Linked DNA regions of Homo sapiens: region 1 is linked to region 2. Evidence: fine-mapped expression QTL. A gene starts in region 2. The other region holds a variant in brackets. All regions are shown on one strand. Distances are from middle to middle.

Region 1 (5,374 bases), 25 kb after region 2:
TGTCATTCATTCGATCAGTCTCTAGTTCCAATTCTGACTCCTCCACGTATGAGCCACGAGGCCGTGGGCAAGGACTCAATCTGTCTGTGCCTCCGTTTCCTCATCTTTCATATAATGATACTATTAGCTCAGAGTTTAGCCATGCTCAGGAGAGGAATTCCTACGGTTCTTAGAACAGCACCCAGGATACAGCCAGCAGTCAATAATATATCACAATGAGTATTAAGGCTGAAAGGGACCTCAGAGTTTGTCCAACCTCACCTCCCTCGTTGCAAAGATGCAGGAGAGAGGTTGGGGACAGTGTCAACCCCAGGTAGCCTTTAAGAGGCTGACTGCAGACCTAACACCAGACCGTCCAACCCCAGGCCCAAGTCCCCTTTTTGTTTCTTGCTGTCACTCTGTCTCTTCAAAGGACAAGAAAAAGCCGCGGTGGGGTAGGGAGTGGTCGCACCCACACCCAGATCCACCCTCCCAGGCACTGCCTCCCCTGTAGAACCTATCACCTTCATTCCCAGTGCTCATGTTATGCCCAATCCCTGGAAGAATGTGCCCTTTAAATCTCTGTGCACCCTGGAACTAGCAGCCATTAAAAGTGATAATAATGGCTGGACGCGGTGGCTCACACCTGTAATCCCAACACTTTGGGAGGCCGAGGCGGGTGGGTCATCTGAGGTCAGGAGTTCCAGACCAGCCTGGCCAACATGGTGAAACCCCGTTTCTACTAAATAAACAAAAATTAGCTGGGCATGATGGCACATACCTGCAATCCAAGCTGCTCAGGAGGCTGAGGCAGGAGAATCACTTGAACCCGGGAGGCAGAGGTTGCAGTGAGCGGAGATTGCACCACTGTGCTCCAGTCTGGGTGACAGAGCGAGACTCTGTCTCAAAAAAAAAGGTAATAATAATGGGCAGGGCACACTGGCTTTGTGCCTGTGGTCCCAGCTACTCAGGAGTCTTTGGCAGGAGGATCTCTTCAGTCCAGGAGTTCGAGGCTGCAGTCAGCTATGATTGCGCCACTGAACTCCAGCCTGAGTGACATGATGAGATTCTGTCTCTAAAAAATAAAAATTAAAAAAAAGAAAAGAAAAAAAGGAATAATAACAAAATAAAAAGAGAAATTTACCAATTACTGAGGGAGTCTAGAAAGGCTAGGTGTACCCCCTCTAAATCTAAAAGTTCAAAAATAAAAATAAAATATTTGATTGGTAAAAAATGCTAACAATCGTTTAAGCCTTTAGCAAGGCATAATCTTTTTGCTGGTGGAGGGTCTTGCCTGATGGTGACACGGCTGACTGATCACAGTGGCAACTGCTGGAGGTTGGGGTGGCTATGGCAATTTCCTAAAATAAGACCGTGAGGAAGTTTGCTGCCTGGATGGACTCTTCCTTTCATGAAATTTCTCTGGAGCATGCGATGCTGGTTGATAACATTTGGCCACAGTAGAGCTTCTTTGAAAGTTGGAGTCGTCCGGGAGGTGAGGGGCGCCTCTGCCCGGCCGCCCCTACTGGGAAGTGAGGAGACCCTCTGCCCGGCCAGCTGCCCCGTCCGGGAGGGAGGTGGGGGGGGGGGTCAGCCCCCCGCCCGGCCAGCTGCCTCGTCCAGGAGGGAGGTGGGGGGGTCAGCCCCCCGCCCGGCCAGCCGCCCCGTCCGGGAGGTGAGGGGCACCTCTGCCCGGCCGCCCCTACTGGGAAGTGAGGAGCCCCTCTGCCCGGCCACCACCCCGTCTGGGAGGTGTACCCAACAGCTCATTGAGAACGGGCCATGATGACAATGGCGGTTTTGTGGAATCGAAAGGGGGGAAAGGTGGGGAAAAGATTGAGAAATCGGATGGTTGCCGTGTCTGTGTAGAAAGAAGTAGACATGGGAGATTTTTCATTTTGTTCTGTACTAAGAAAAATTCTTCTGCCTTGGGATCCTCTTGATCTGTGACCTTACCCCCAACCCTGTGCTCTCTGAAACATGTGCTGTGTCCACTCAGGGTTAAATGGATTAAGGGCGGTGCAAGATGTGCTTTGTTAAACAGATGCTTGAAGGCAGCATGCTCGTTAAGAGTCATCACCACTCCCTAATCTCAAGTACCCAGGGACACAAACACTGCGGAAGGCCGCAGGGTCCTCTGCCTGGGAAAACCAGAGACCTTTGTTCACTTGTTTATCTGCTGACCTTCCCTCCACTATTGTCCTATGACCCTGCGAAATCCCCCTCTGCGAGAAACACCCAAGAATGATCAATAAAAAAAATAAAAAATAAAAAAATAAATAAAAAATAAAAAATAAAAAAAGAAAGTTGGAGTCAATTCTCTCAAATTCTATGCTGATTTATCAACTACGTTTATATAATATTCTTTTTTTTTTTTTTTTTGAGACACACTTTCACTCTGTCGCCCAGGCTAGAGTGCAGTGGTGTGATCTCGGCTCACTGCAACCTTTGCCTGAGGGGTTCAAGCGATTCTCCTGCCTCAGCCTCCTGAGTAGCTGGGATTACAGACATCTGCCACCACACCCAGCTAATTTTTTTAGTAGAGATGTTTAGTAGAGAGGTTTCCCTATGTAGGCCAGGCTGGTCTTGAACTCCTGACCTCAGGTGGTCTGCCCACCTCAGCCTCCCTAAGTGCTGGGATTATGTAATATTCTTAATCTTGTGTTGTCATTTCAACAATATTTATATCATCTTCACCAGGAATAGATTCCATCTGAAAAAAAAAAAAAACACTTTCTTTCCTCATCTGTAAGAAGCAGGTCCTCATCTGTGCAAGTTTCATCATGAGACTGCAGCAATTCAGGCTCCACTTCTAATTCTGGTTCTCTATTTCCACACATCCGCA[A/G]TCACTTCCTCCCCTGAAGCCTTGAGCCACTCAAAGTCATCCATGAGAATCAGAATCAGCTTCTCCCGAACTCGTGTTAATGTTGATATTTTGACCCCCTCTGATGAATCATGAATGTTCTTAATGGCATCTAAAATGGTGAATTTTTTTCCAGAAGGTTTTCAATTGACTTTGCCCAGATCCATCAGAAGAATCACTATCTATGGCAGCTATAGCCTTATGAAATGTATTTCTGAAATAATGAGACTTGAAAGTCGAAATTACTCCTTGGTCCATGGACTGCAGAATGGGTGTTGTGTTTGCAGGCATGGAAACAACACTAATCTCCTTGAACATCTCCATCAGAGCTCTTGGGTGATCAGGTGCACTGTCAATAAGCAGCAAACTTTGGAAAGAAATCTATTTTTCTGAGCAGCAGGTCTCCAGAATGGGCTTAAAACACTCAGTCAAGCATGCTATAAACAGATGTGCTGTCACCCCAGCTTTGTTCCATTTCTAGAGCACAAGAAGGGTGGATTTAGCATCATTCTTCAGGGCCCTGGAATTTTCCAAATGGTAAATGACCACTGGCTACAACTTGAAGTCCTACCAGCTGCATTAGCCTCTAACAAGAGAGTCAACTTGTCCTTTGAAGCTTTGAAGCCAGGCATTGACTTCTCTGAAAGTCCTAGATGCCATCTTCTTCCATCGAAGGCCATCTCATCTACACTGAAAACCTGTTGTTGAGTGTAGCCACCTTCATCAGAGATCTTCTGGAGAACTTGCTGCGCCTTCTCCATCTGTACTTGCTGCTTCACCTTGTACTTTTATGTTGTGGAGATTGCTTCTTTCCTTAAACCTCATGAACCCTGCTGACTTCCACCTCTGCTGACTTCCAATTTTTCTTCTGAAGCTTCCTCACGTCTCTCAGCCTTCATAGAACTGAAGAGCATTCGGACCTTGCTCTGGATTTGGCTTTGGCTTAAGGGGATGTTGTGGCTGGTTTGATCTTCTATCCAGATCACTCAGACTTCCTTCATATCAGCAATTAGGCTGTTTCACTTTCTTATCATTCATATGTTCACTGGAGTAACACTCTTAATTTCCTTCAATAACTTTTTCTTTGCATTCAGAATTTGGCTGTTTGGTGCAAAAGGCCTTCAGCCCATCTTGGCTTTTGGCATGGCTTCTTCACCAAGCTTAATCATTTCTAGGTTTTGATCTAAAGTGAGAGATATGTGGCCAGACGTGGTGGCCCACGTCTGTAATCCCAGTGCTTTGGGAGGCCAAGGCAGGCAGATCACTTAGAGTCAGGAATTCCAGACTAGCCTGGCCAACATGGTGAAACCCCATCTCTACTAAAAACACAAAAATTAGCCAGGCATGGTGGCACCCACCTGTAATGCCAGCTACTCAGAAGGCTGAGGCAGGAGAATCACTTGAACCCCAGAGGGGGAAGTTTCAGTGAGCCAAGATCACACCAGTGTACTCCAGGCTGGGTGACAGAGTGAGATCCTGCCTCAATAAATAAATAAATAGTGAGAGACATGTGACTCTTCCTTTCAGTTGAACACTTAAAGACCATTGTAGAGTTATTATTTGGCTTAATTTCAATATCATTGCATTGCAGGGAATAGGGAGGCCACAGGAGAGGGAGAGAGAGACAGGGGAGCTATCAGTGGTGGAGCAGTCAGAACACACACATTTATGAAGTTCGCCTTCATATACGGACGTGCTTCATGGTGCCCCAAAAAGAGGACAATAGCAACATCGAAGATCACTGATCACAGATCACCATCACAGACATGATAATTACAAAAAAGTTTGAAACATTGTGAGAATTACCAAAGTAACACGGAGACACAAAGTGAGTGCATGCAGCTGGGAAAACAGCACTGATAGACTTGCTCAGTGCAGGGTCGCTGCATACCTTCAGCGTGTAAAAAATGCAGTATCTGCAAAGCGCATAAAACAAGGTATGCCTGCATGTGATGGGTTGTGGGAATTGGTACGAACTGTTTGCAGTTTCATGACAACACGTGGGCCCTTGTTATTCTCAACAGTCTTTCACCCTCTTCTTTAGATTCCCCTTCAGGTGTTAAACTATGTGTTTTTTGTTTGTTTGTTTGTTTAGAGATGGAGTCTCACTCTATCACCCAGGCTGGAGTGCAGTGGCGCAATCTCAGCTCACTGCAACCTCCGATTCCTGGGTTCAAGCCATTTTCCTGCCTCAGCCTCCCAAGTAGCTGGGATTATAGGCATGCGCCATTACGCACAACTAATTTTTGTATTTTGGGTAGAGACGGGGTTTCCCCATGTTGGCCAGCCTAGTCTGGAACTCCTGACCTCAAGTGATCTGCCTGCCTCAGCCTCCCAAAGTGCTGGGATTACAGGCGGGAGCCACCGCGCCTGGCCAGTTGTTAAACTATCTTAATGATAATTAAAACAGATTATAACAACATGATACCTATTGTGTGCCAGGCACTTCATGCATACTAACTCATTTAATCCTCACAGCAGCAGCTCAATAAGGTTGGTTCTATTAGTATCACCATTTTACCAGTGAGAAAA
Region 2 (5,374 bases):
GACACCTGTGTCACATTGTGACTTGAACTCTCTGGGACAGGAGAATGTGAGCTCCTGGAAGTGGGGGCAGGTTCATAATTTGTGGGTCCCAATTTGAAATAAAACTGTGGGGTCTCTTGGGGTTGGGGGGCTCTTACCTTTCTTCTGCTCTCTTCCTCAACCTGTCCTGACGTTTTTTATTTGCTATGTAGTGTCCCACTCCCTCGGGGTACTCCCAGAGTGAGCGCCCCTAACTGACTTTACCCAGCTCATGCCAGGGGCGGAAGGTAGCAGCGGTCATTGCTCCCACATGGGTGGGGGAGCCAGCAGCTGATACCCCTTCACCACCCTTCAGGAGGCGGTGGGAGGTGGGGCTGCTGCTGAGCTAAGGCTCCAAACCCCCAGTGCATCTCCCTTCTCCCATGACTTTTTTTTTTTGACGGAGTCTCACTCTGTCACCTAGGCTGGAGTAAAGTGGCACGATCTCGGCTCACTGCAACCTCCACCTCCCAGGTTCAAGCGATTCTCCTGCCTCAGCCTCCCAAGTAGCTGGGATTACAGATGCCTGCCACCATGCCCGGCTAATTTTTTTTGCATTTTTAGTAGAGATGGGGTTTTGCTGTGTTGGCCAAACTGGTCTCAAACTCCTGGCCTCAGATGATCTGCCCGCCTCAGCCTCCCAAAGCGTTGGGATTATAGGCGTGAGCCATGGTGCCCAGCCCTGCCATCATTCTTTACTTGCAAAACACAAATGCACAGATAAAATTTTTAAGAATTGGCAAGACAGGGTGGCTCACACCTGTAATCCCAGCACTTTGGGAGGCCAAGGCAGGAGGATTGCTTGAGCCCAGGAGTTCAGCCAGTCTGGACAACATAGCAAGACTCCATCTCTGTAAAAAGTAAAACAAAACAAAACAAAAAACAGGCATGATGGCATGCACCTGTGGTCCCAGCTATTCAGGAGGCTGAGGTGAGAGGATCACTTGTGCCCGAGAGTTTGAGGCTGCAGTAAGCTGTGATTGCACCACTGCACTCCAGCCTGGGTAACAGAGCTGGAGTAAAAATAAAAATAAAAATAATCAGGAATTTCAAGAGGTCAAGGGCAGAACATTAAACTCCAAAGTTAATGAGTGTGGGCCCTGTGTGACCATACTGGCCCCAAGAAGTGGGCCCTGCCTGGGAGGCAGGTTCAAGGCTTCCCTCCCGAGGTAAGGTAGGGTCTTGTCTAGAGTTTTGTGGCCTTTCCTGGGATTGAGAATAATAGGTGCTGATGTCAGGGCCTCCAAGGAGCCAAGGGAAGACTTCTCACCCCTGCTGGCCTTCCTCCAGGACACCTCCCTGGGGTAACCCACGTGTACCCATCCACAGGACTTGATGTAGTGGAGGTTGGGGAAGGAGGGTGAGTGGGGCCTACCGAGATCCACCGAACTGCACCACGCTCTGCCCAAAGCCGCCTGCATCCTCCTGGAAGATCGTAGGCTCCTCCACATCCAGGTTGAATCCATGATAAGAAGCCAGGACTGAGGAATATTTGGTGGGCGGGGAGGCTGGGAGTTAAAGAAGCCCCAATCCCTAGGACCTCCCAGCCTCTTTTTCTTTTTTTTCTTTTTTTTTTTTTTTTTTTTGAGATGGAGTCTCGCTCTGTTGCTGAGGCTGGAGTGCAACGGCACGATCTCAGCTCACTGCAACTTCCGTCTCCTGGGTTCAAGCGATTCTCTTGCCTCAGCTTCCCAAGTAGCTGGGATTACAAGTGCACGCCACCATGCCCGGCTAATTTTTATATTTTTGGTAAAGATGGGGTTTCACCATGTTGGCCAGGCTGGTCACAAACTCCTGACCTCAGGGGATACGCCCATCTCGGCCTCCCAAAGTGCTGGGATTATAAGCATGAGCCACCGCACCCAGCCAAGCCTGATTTTTGATGGCACGTGAATGTGACTCTGATGCAGTTTTCAGCAGGGGGCCTCTTCCCTACGTGCAGTCAGGACTTGGGGGAAACAGGCCCAGGGAGGTGATGTCCAACCTTTCCCCCTCCCTGGTGGCTTCTGTGGCCTTCCACTCCCGGGGGAGGCTGGGGAGACCTCTGTCACCCACACCAGGGACTCCATGAGTGGGAGCAGGGAAGCCTGGGACAACATAGCCAGCTGGAGAGGTAGCTTAGTCGCCACCTGAGCACAGCCCCTGAGCCCCTCTTCATTCAGGTCACACTCTACTGACTCCGGGCCACTCGCACATGAAGCACTCCCCTGCCTCAGCTCCTCATAAGAGTGGTTGGAGCCGACCACCAGCCCCCAGCCTGCCCTCCCAGATGGAGTCCCCTCAGAACTCCTCCAAGCTTCTCCCCAGCACCCTGGCCCCACTTACCACTCAGAAGAAGCACAGTGCCGAAGGTCATCCCTGAGCAGCGCGTTGAGGGGAAGTGGAAGGTTGGGGACAGAGCACAGAAGGTGCTCACCCTCCCAGGGGGTAGTTAAAATAATGATTCAGGGCCTCCACACAGCAGGAAGAGGGGCACAGTGGGTAGGAGGGGCGTGGTTAATTATGGAACAGAAGTGGGGGCAGGGGCCAACAACACCCTGGGGAAAAACCCTCATTCTGTCCCCCTCCACAACCTGCAGGGACCTGGCTTCCTTCTCCCAGAAGACCACCCTCCCCCAGGCCTCAGGAGCCAGTTGGTACCCAGGGAGCCCCGTAGCTCTCTGAGGTCCCACAGGAGTGGAAGGACAGGAAGCAGAATGGCTGCAGAGGTCTTGGCATGTGGATGTGAGCCGGCAGAGAGGCAGGGAGAAGGGGAGCTAGGCCAGGGTGTGGTTTCAAAAAGCAGAGCCCCTCCAGAGGAGAATGGACACCCAAAATAATAAAGTCATGCCATGGGCTACTACTCAGCAAGAAATAAGATCAAACTACAGATCAGATGCCATGGCTCATGCCTGTGGTCCCAGAGCTTGGCAGGTGGATTGCTTGAGGCCAACAGTTCGAGACCAGCCTAGGCAACATAGCCAGACCCTGTCTTTACAATAAATAACAAAGAACAAACTGCAGTTCTGTACAACAATACAGGTTAACTCAATTTTATCTTAAGTGAAAGAAACCAGACACCAGAATGCCTAATGTCTGGTTCCTTTCATATACAAGAGAATGGGCAAAATTCATCTACGAAGATAGAAATCAGAAGAGTGGTTGTCTATGGTGGGGCAGAGAGGAAACTTTTTTTTTTTTTGACAAGTTTTGCTATGTCGCCCATGCTGGAATGCAGTGGCATGATCAGGGCTCACTGCAGCCTCAAATTCCCAGACTCAAGCAATTCTCCCACCTCAGCCTCCCAGTCACTGGGATTACTGATGCACACCACCATGCCCAGCTAATTTTTTTGTTTTTTGTAGAGACGAGATCGCACTATGTTGCCCATGCTGGTCTCGAGCTCCTGGACTCAAGCAATCCTCCCACCTCCTCCTCCCAAAGTACTGGGATTACAGGCGTGAGCCACCACATCCAGCCAGGAACCTTTAGCATGTGTTAAATTTAGCATTTAACACAATATTTTAATATTTATTACATGGGGTTGGGGAGAAGATAAATGAGTGGTTGTTATTTATTTTCTGTGATTTTTCTGTATGTTTGAAATATTCCATGATTAAACATAAAAGTTCCTTTAAAATGTGAAAAAGAAAAAGGTCTATATATAAAAGGCTAGGAATAGGCCAGGCGCAGTGGCTCACACCTATAATCCCAGCACTTTGAGAGGCTGAGGTGGATGGATCACCTGAGGTCAGGAGTTTGAGACCAGCTCTGGCCAATATGGTGAAACCCCGTCTCTACTAAAAATACAAAAATTAGCTGGGCATGGTGGTGCGCACCTGTAATCCCAGCTACTCAGGAGGCTGAGGCAGGAGAATCGCTTGAACCCAGGAGGTAGAGTTTGCAGTGAGTCAAGATTGCGCCACTGCACTCCAGCCTGGGCGACAGAGCAAGACTGTCTCAATAAATAAAAAATAAAAAATAAATAAAAAGCTTAGGAATATACTTTGAAGGTTAAAATATAACAAGATCCCTACCTATAACATAAATTATTTTGTATATATATGTGACAATTATTTAAAACATTTGGCTGGGCACAGTGGCTTATGTCTGTAATTCCAGCACTTTGGGAGGCTGAGGCAGGTGTATAGCTTGAGGTCAGGAGTTCGGGACCAGCCTGGCCAACATGGTGAAACCCCATCTCTACTAAAAATACAAAGATTAGCCAGGCATGGTGGTGCACGCCTGTAATCCCAGCTACTCAGGAAGCTGAGGCAGGAGAATCGCTTAAACCCAGGAGGCAGAGGTTGCAGTGAGTCAAGATCACACCACTGCATTCCAGCGTGGGCAACAGAGCAAGACTCTGTCTCAAAAACAAAACAAAATGAAACAAACAAAACATTTAAAATGTAATTAAACATCAAGTGCAAATAATATGAAATAGTTTTCTATACAAAAATTTTACATCAATTTACTTGAGAGCTGACATTTAATGGACAGAAGAAATTAATTGTGATGCATTAACGATGCCCTTGCAGGAAACCGAGCCGAGGGCTGTGATTGCTAACTTCGAGGCTGACTTATCTACTGCCTTACAAAGACTGCCCAGGCAAAGTGGAGCGGCAGCCTTCTCCCTCTTGTGCTGAAAGGTTTGTGGCTGGCCGCACCCTGTCATCAGTTCTGTGGATCTGTGAACTTCTCCCTGTATTTGGAACCACAAAATAATTTGTTGGTGATTCTTCATAATTCAGAAATTTAAAGAGCTCTTCATTTTCTCCATCTTCACCACACCTCATCTTTTACACATTTCTATATCCCCTTTAATTTTGGACTTCCTTCTGTAAGTAGTGCTTGAAACTCACGATTTGCTGATATCAGCAACTATAAAATTCTCCAACTTTCCCTAACTCGTATTATCGCTTGTCTCAGCAAAATTTTTTGTTTTCCACTCATGTTTGGAGAGCAATGATAAGGGCAAAATGCAGTAAGGTAGTCAAATGCTCACAATCACTGCACGCTGCCAGGAAATCATCTTTCTCCCAGGCCTGGAGCTGGAGCTGCCAAGGCTCAGAGTCCACAGCAGCTGAAGGTGATGCCCCCAAATTCAGGGCATCCTCTGGGGACTTGATGGCGGCTCCACCCTTAAAGGAACCACCAGCTCTCAGTAAATTTTTAATTAATTAATCAATTAATTTTTATTTTGAGATGGAGTCCTGCTCTGTCGCCCAGGCTGGAGTGCAGTGGTGCAATCTCAGCTCATTGCAACCTCTGCCTCCCAGGTTCAAGTGATTCTCCTGTCTGAGCCTCCCGAGTAGCTGGGATTACAGGCACACACCACCACACCTGACTAATTTTTGTATTTTTAGTAGAGACGGGG

The links. PIP is the estimated chance that this variant, and not a neighbour inherited with it, causes the effect.
Region 1: its variant is the best candidate, but not a certain one, in a credible set for the expression of ITGAD in whole blood (TOPMed, PIP 0.83).

Annotation. Positions count from the first base shown.
Region 1 is chr16:31,365,485-31,370,858 of GRCh38, reverse strand. All of the region lies in intron 14 of ITGAX (integrin subunit alpha X), which reads right to left. Among named protein-coding and RNA genes, the nearest start is that of ITGAX, 13 kb to the right of the region's middle. RefSeq lists an enhancer at 1,694-2,300. The variant A/G (reference allele first, on the strand shown) is at 2,825.
Region 2 is chr16:31,390,361-31,395,734 of GRCh38, reverse strand. It overlaps ITGAD (integrin subunit alpha D), which reads right to left and starts at 2,400. Exons shown (of 30, transcript NM_005353.3): 1 at 2,344-2,400; 2 at 1,394-1,499. The coding sequence starts at 2,374.